Linked DNA regions of Homo sapiens. The protein of the gene in region 1 interacts with the protein of each later gene in a biochemical or structural test. Each region holds a gene or a part of one and is shown in the gene's direction. Other genes may lie near its edges.

Region 1 (3,918 bases):
TTATTTGTACAGATACTTGCTCATATGGTAATGTGGTAAGAAAATCTAAATTAATAAGGTTTTGATAATAGTAATTATGGCTTGATTAGTAAATACAAACATAGGCTTTGAAGGCAAGCCTGATAATACCTGGCTCTGCAACTAACCAGCTGTGTGGGCTCTGGCCTGTAATTCAACCTCTCTGAGCTTCGCTTTCCCCATGTGTAAAATATTCACACGATTGGTGTAAGCTGCAGATGATTTACTGTATGTAAATAGCCTAAATCAATTAAAAGGGGGCTCTTGTGATTAAAATAATTATTAGTGTTTCCCCCCACTGATCCCATAAATCACATTCAATCCACTGTGCCATAATTTAAATGTGTAAAAACTGTGAATCAGACTTTTATTGGATTAAATAGCAACGTATGGGAACTGAACAAAAATGGCATAGAGCTATCCAAGAGTTTCTGCTGTCGCCGGTTGAGAAAGATGCCAAGTTAAGATCAAGGAGTTGATTGAGGTAACTACGGGAATCTGAGGAAACATCGTTGCTTAACTGTAAAAACTAAATCAAACTATTTCATCCTCCTCAAGACCACAGCAACATCCATCTTGCTCCTCTGTAGCGTGGACGGGGCAGAACCCAGGTGTTAGGAAACGCACCTGGTCTGCTCCCGCCCACTAGGCCCTGGGCACCTCGGGGCTAGGGACAGAGGTTTGGAGCAACTCACCCCGGAGACTCCGTTGATACTGCCCCAGAATCTCCTCCAGGGTAGAGTTCTCCGGGGACTTCGCCATGCACGCACTCTAGGCCCAGAGCTGGGAGTTACGTGGGGAAATGTCCAGCTTTCTCCCTTCCGAGAACAACAGGCCTGTGGCCGGGGAGCGCCCGCCTGCTTCCTGCCGCGGCTGTCACAGGGGAGCCTAGAATCCCGCACAGAGCTCTTGGGGGCTCTTCCCACCCACTGGCCCTCGCTTTGCACGTCGGGAGTTGTAGTCCTCACGTTCAGAACCTGCAAGCTCGACAATCCTCAGGGCCTTCCAGTTACACTACAATTCCCAGAAACCACTGCGCTCCAGGCGCTAGCTTGGACGGTTTGGCTGCCAGAGCCTGCTGCCAAGAGACAGGCTTGCAGGCCCCGCCCTTTTCCTCCAGCCCAGCCTGGTTTAGTCCCGCCTCCATCCCACTCTTCAGCTGCCTGGACCACCCAAATGACAGAAAGGGCTCACTGAAGGCCTTGACGCTTCGAAATTTGCTAATATGCAGCAGTTGATCCCCAGGCTACTCAAGGACGCAGATAGTAAACTCTGAACCCTGCTTCAGTTGCGAGATTTTTTAAAACGGTCGAATAAATCTTCAAGAAATAGAAGCTCTAAATCTTCCAAACAGCCTAGATTGTAAAGGCGGCCGACACTACAACTCCTAGCATGCCCAGCAACCGGACCTTCACTTGGAGTTGGCGCTCTGCCCGCTGGGAACTGTAGTCCTTGTTGGTTGCGGTCCCACCTAACGCCGAGGTCCTCTTCATTGTTCAAGCTGGTCTTTCGGGGCACGCCTGCGCAGTGGGCAAGCTGGAAAAGCGTGTGGGTGAGACCCTCGCACAACCCCTTTTCATTGTCTGTGTGTGGCGCCTGCGCAGTAAGGGATCGTTGGAACTGGGCAGGAGGGGATAGGGTCCGGCTCCTCGCCCTTTCCCGAGGCGCCTGCGCACTAGGCAGTCGGTCTTTGCCGTTACCGCTATGTGTGGGGCGTGTGTGGAATAACGTTATTGCCCAGCGGAGCTGAGGGCCCCGGAGCTCGACCGCAGCGGCAGCGACGACAACAGCGGCGACGACGACGACGACGAGGTGGGGGGAGGACGGCGTGCGAGAGACTCACGGGACGCGACGCGCCCCGCCTCCCCCGTCCGGTCCCTCTCTCCACGGTAAGGGGTAAGTGATGCGATCGGCTGCTCGGTGTAGGCGCCGCAGCCGCAGCCACCGCCGCGGCTGCTTTCCACATCCTGCTCCTCGGGTTTGCGGCGAGGACTCGGGCGCCGCCCGCCGCGGGGCGGGGGTGCGGGGCTGGACCGCGAAGGGGGCGCTTCCCGGGTGCTCCGCGCGGCGCCGCCACCCCCACCCTCTGCCCGCCTGGGACCCGGGGCTTGACGGGACCACCCTTCCCATCCCCCACCCGCCGCCCCCCGGAGCTCCAGTCCTGCGGCCCCCCGGCTTTCCCGAGCCCCTTGCTGCCGCCTCCGCATCCCCTAAGTGCATTGAATCATTTTCAGCTTTCGACTGGCTTTGTGCAGCCCTCCCCCCTCCGCCGTAGCAGTTTGCGAGGGGTGCGGGCGGAGCATTGGAGGGAATGGCTGCGCTGCCGCTGGGGAAGGGATTTTTCCCCCATTGGAGCAGCTCCCCGGGCCAATCCCTTTTGTGTGATTGGTTTTGGGGTGTGAGGCGGTTGGCGAGGTCAGGCGAGCAACCTTTTGGACGCGTTGGGAGGGCGTGGAAGACGCGGTGTCATGCACCCTGCCTGGCGACTGCACCCCGTGGAGGCTCTGGCTCTGTAGTAAACCCGGGGGAGGAGAGAGTGGCTTCCTGTCGGCTTCATTGTCCTAGGATTCAGATGTAGGGTTTTGGTACGTTTCGCTTCCATTTTATGCAAGCGATGAAAAAATAACATTTGCAGCTGCCTAACACAGGGCGGGAAGACGTGGGATTTGTATACTAAGTCACAGAATCTCTGTTCGGTGGTGTTTCGTAGAGTTTTATTTATTTATTTATTTATTTATTTATTTATTTTGAGGAATGTAAGGAAGACAGGGACTATGCCTGCTGGAGTCCAAGCACTGCCAAGGTGATCAATATAAAATTACTAGGTGACGTTGGAGCCTGGGCTAGAGAGGGCCTGACAACGAAGCTGTTGTGTCAGGGAAATGAACAAGCAGAATTGTTTTTTCATTGGGCAGGTAATGCATTTATGTTCCTGAGGGAATGGATACATCTTTCCGTTTATTTTTTAAGCAAGTAAAACAAACAAAACAACTGGCCCAGTACATTTCTGTTACCGAAGTTGTTAACTCATTTTTATTCTCTTAATGAAAATTCAGCCATTTGGGAGGAATTTGGCGAAGCAGATGATACATTTGATTGAAAATGCATATTTTAAAATGATTTAATCCTTAAGCTTACAATGTATGCAGCCGTTTGCTGGCGTTGCTTCTTAAAACACACCAGAAGAGAGAATAAAGCAGGATGGGGAGGAGCAGGTGGAGGAATAATGGGAGAGGAGAGAGTGACATTATGACTATAGTATCTGGATCTTCACTGGTATAACCCTAACTGGGTATGCTTCAGAGACTTAGGAATTCAGCTCTGGAAACAGTACACTGATGAATAGCAACTTATGTATTTTTCTGTTATTATTTTTTAAAAAGTAAAACTAGGGCTGCCTTTAGCTCTTCCTAACTTTGTAGATAACACGGAAGAGCCCAAGTGCACTTGACAGAGGAAGACACTAAAACTCAGAAAGTTAACTGACTTGTCTGCCCAAGCCAGACAGTTAATCGAAGGCAGAGCCAAACGAAACTCAAGGTCCATTCTGCAGAGTGATCTTTCCTGTGTCCCCCTAGCCCTTTTACCTTGTGAAAATGTATGGAAAGCTTCTCTATGTGCTCCCTGAGTAGGCTGTGACTATCACTGAACTTGATTCTCACCGTGATTAATCTAGTTCTTGCCTTTGTGATGTAAAAGTAGTAATCCTCCTAAAATGGACCTTTACTTTCATAAAGTAACTTACTACATGAGGAAAGATGTCCTAACATGTGCTTTTCATAAAAACGAAGTGTTGCAGTGTTTTCCCTACTACCTAATGGTAGCTACTTAACGGTAGGTTTTAATATTATTTCTTGAAAATCAATAGTATTTTATAATAGTATGATGATCAACTCTATA
Region 2 (3,918 bases), on another chromosome or scaffold:
GTTTCCTTTTCAGTCCGCCTGCCACTGCCCCCGACCATACGCAGATATACACAAGACAGGAATTTTTCTTTTTTTTTTTGAGATGGAGTCTAGTTCTGTCTCCCAGGCTGGAGTGCAGCGTCACGATCTCAGCTCACTGCAACCCCCACCTTCCGGGTTCGACCGATTCTCCTGTCTCAGCCTCCTAAGTAGCTGGGATTACAGGTGCGCACTGCCACGCCCGGCAAATTTTTGTATTTTTAGTAGAGACAGGGTTTCAACATGTTGGTCAGGCTGGTCTCAAACTCCTGATCTCGTGATCCGCCTGCCTCGGCCTCCCAAAGTGCTGGGATTACAGGCGTGAGCCACTGCGCCCGGCCAGGAATGATTTTTTTCCAACACAACAGAATTTGTAGAGGCAAGTTGGTGGTAGGGTGGCTGTTGCTCTAATTTTACTAAAAGCAAAAGTATCTGAAATTCTTGACAGTTAATGCCCTAGAAAACAGCAAATTTCAGTAAAGAAGACTCTGCTTCTGTGAACTTATTTCTAAAAAGTAAAGAAGAGGTGACACAAACTTGGGGAGAAAGTTATCTTGATGCCCATCATAGAAATGAAAGAAATATGTGGCATTCCTTACAATCTTAGAACTCTTGGAGTAGGGGTAGGAGCTTGCATTGTAGAGTCCTAGCTAAACAAGGTAACACTTATTTTATATTTATAGTATGTTATGTTACTGTTAGTATGAGTATGCTACTGAACCACATACATAGGACCAGTTAGACCGGACTTGGATTATTATATTCAATTGTGTGAATCAAATATAAGAGGGGATTTTTTTATTCAGAGGAGGAAAGTGGAATCAGAGCATCCAGAATTTATTGCACAAGCATAGATACGAAAATTAGTGCTGCTTATTCTAGAGATGAAAGAAGACTATACCATGTTATCGTCTTCACATATGTGGAAGAATCACAAAGAGTGAGTGGATATTACTTGTGTGGCTTTGGGAGTCAAAACTAAGGCCAGCAGGTGGAAGGTTACAAGGGGTCAGACAACCTTTAACAATATTCAGCGATCGAACTGTCTGGAAGTATCCAAGCAGTGGCTGGATTGGCATTTTTCAGAGATGTTGTAGAGAGGATTTCAGCCTAGTTCGACCAACAGGTTATAATCTCACTAGTACAAGAAAGTGGGATGATTCCTCCAATTGAAGGCTTTAGCTGCTCAGCTACCAAAGATATACTAGCTTTTGTGATTGCCATTCATATCTTTTCCCAAAATGATAACCATTGGAGACCTCCAATAACCTCTCAGTAACATTTTCTTCTTTGGCTGTAGGCCAACATCATAGTTACAAGAGATGCACAAAATTTATCCAACACTCTTCACCTAGAACTACAGTTATAGATTGTTGTTTTCAGGATTGGTTTTTGCTATGGGAGATAAATCATACATCAGCAGGAAACCCTAGTGTCAAATAAAGATCAGTCTATTTAGGAATTCATCATCTTTCTTGACTTATCAAATCTCCCAATGTATTATCAAGACTTTGAGCTATACCTTTGCCCTCAGCGCTTGCTGGATTTGGAGGTAGACAGTTGACTTCAATAACAAGAGTTTGGAGTACTCCTTTCAGTGTACCCCCATTCAGATGGTCAAAATTTCATCACCGTAGAGGCCATGGCGTTCTTTTCCAAGTTTCTACTAATCTGGCCAGACAGTATGTCTATCCCAAGTTGAGATGGGCAAAGTCCTCTCCCTTGTATTCTTCGTTCTTAAGAAGTATATGTGGGAAATAATTTTCTGGATCTTAGCAAACTAAAGTTAATAGTAAATGAGGCCCGGGCACAGTGCCACAGGCTATAATCCCAGCACTCTGGGAGGCAAAGGCAGGAGTATCACCTGAACTCAAGAGTTCAAGACCAGCCTGGGCAACAATGGTGACACCTCATCTCTACAAGAAAATAGAAAAATGAGCCGGGCATGGTGGCACAGAACTGACACTCTGGGAGGCAAAGACAGGAGTATCACTTGAGCTTAAGAGTTCAAGAGCAGCCTGGGCAACATGGCGAAACCCCATCTCTACAAAAAAATAGAAAAAGTAGCCAGGCATGGTGGTGCAGGCCTGTAGTCCTAGCTACTTGGGAGGCTAAGGTTAGAGGATTACTTGAGCCAAGGCTGCAGTGAGCCGAGATTGCGCCATTGCACTCTAGGCTGGGCAACAGAGGGAAACCTTGTAACACAAAATAGTAAATGAGAAGTTTAAAATGACATTCCTCAGAAAAAATGTGTCACTGAGAGTCCTGGCTAAAGGTTGCTTGAAAGCTGAAGGCTGTTTGATTATACCTTCCAATCTCCCAGACTACAGGAGCTTTGTTTTGTGGCATTTGTTGACATTTTTCCAGAACTTTGCCTTTGGACAAAACCCTGTGTGATAGCCTACCTTTAGATATTGCAAGACATCACCATCTCATATGGGACCAATTGTGTTATCAGTGATTAATCCCACCTTTGGACTATGAAAGACAGGAGGGGGATAGCATTTAGTTAAACTTCCTAAGAGTCTAAGTTGGTTTCTCTGTAGGAACTTGACTGCCTCACAGCTTTTGGGAAACCATTCAGATGAAAGCATGTTTCCAGTGTAGCAGCAAAATGTGATATTATTAACAATAGTCATAGTTAGCAAGCAGTACCTGGAGTTGCTGAAACTGATGGCATCTAGATAAGTAATAAATTTGACAAGAGGCTGCTTTTCTCTGTTTTCACAAATCATTAACACCATATTCTTTGTGAGGATCCTTTCCTATTCCAGCAGAGTATTAGACATGCATTAAACAAATGTTTGTCAAGTCCTGCTATATGCCAGACACTGACCTTGTCCCTGAGTAAACTGAAATGAACAGGACACAATACCTGCCATTAACTGACACATGGTTAATGTGGTCAACAAGTATACTTTACAGATAGGCCTGCTTTGCTTCACTGTAAGTACTATATAGTAGATTCATACTCTGTGTATGGTTTCATCAGAATTTTCACAAGTAGAACAGTGTTTGAAGTTGAGTGCTGTTCCATAATTACAAAATAAACTACAGTGTGTCCTGAGCAGCCATGACTACCAACTTTATTTAGGCTTCTGGTTCCTCATAAAGAGATCCTTAGAATATGGAGATTTACATTGACTCTGATGATATGCCTATTCATGTTCTACCTGGCCAGTGAGAACATGATCAGAATATACCCTGCAGAGCATTTTTTCTTCCAGAAATTGGTGCTTAACAGAAGTACTTTGAACTATTCTTGAGACCATAACAATAGAGATTTTATCAAGGATTACTCCTCAGTTTGGGAAGTATGGTTTTTTGGGGGTTGTGGGGGTGAGGCACAGAGTTTCACTCTTGTCGCCCAGGCTGGAGTGCAGTGGTGCGATCTTGGCTCACTTCAACCTCCACCTCCCAGGTTCAAGCAATTCTCCTGCCTCCTGCTTCAGCCTCCCGAGTAGCTGGGATTACAGGTATGTACCACCACGCCTGGCTAATTTTTATATTTTTAGTAGAAACAGGGTTTCACCATGTTGGCTATGGTGGTCTCGAATTCCTGACCTCAGGTGATCCACCCACCTCTGTCTCCCAAAGTGCTGGGATTACAGGTGTGAGCCACAGTGCCCAGCCAGGAAGTATCTTCAATCTAAAGATTTCGCCAAACTCCAAGCAACTTTTTTTTTTTTTTTTAAACATAGCTACCTATTGACTGCCTCCAAATAATTTCCTTTAAGTGCCCAAGATGTGGCTTCAAACATTAAAATCTCAGACTATTAATCTACTGTCTCAGCATAGCAGATTACATTCACTCACATATTGTAGTCCTTACAGTGTGACTGTAAAATCATACCTCTACTATCAGTCACCAGACTGGTTTCAGACATCTTAATGACTAGG

Evidence for each region.
Region 2: the proteins of CEP170 (region 1) and TNKS2 interact in a biophysical measurement, tested with the Homo sapiens proteins (one study listed by IntAct).

The regions. Positions count from the first base shown.
Region 1 is NC_000001.11:243,253,036-243,256,953, reverse strand, and holds the start of CEP170 (centrosomal protein of 170 kDa), read left to right. Parts: upstream 1-1,672; 5' UTR 1,673-1,914; exon of another isoform or gene 1,915-3,852; intron 3,853-3,918. Other genes in the region: SDCCAG8 (serologically defined colon cancer antigen 8), read right to left, coding at 714-780.
Region 2 is NC_000010.11:91,801,413-91,805,330, forward strand, and holds part of TNKS2 (poly [ADP-ribose] polymerase tankyrase-2), read left to right. Parts: intron 1-3,918. UniProt on the Homo sapiens protein: Poly-ADP-ribosyltransferase involved in various processes such as Wnt signaling pathway, telomere length and vesicle trafficking.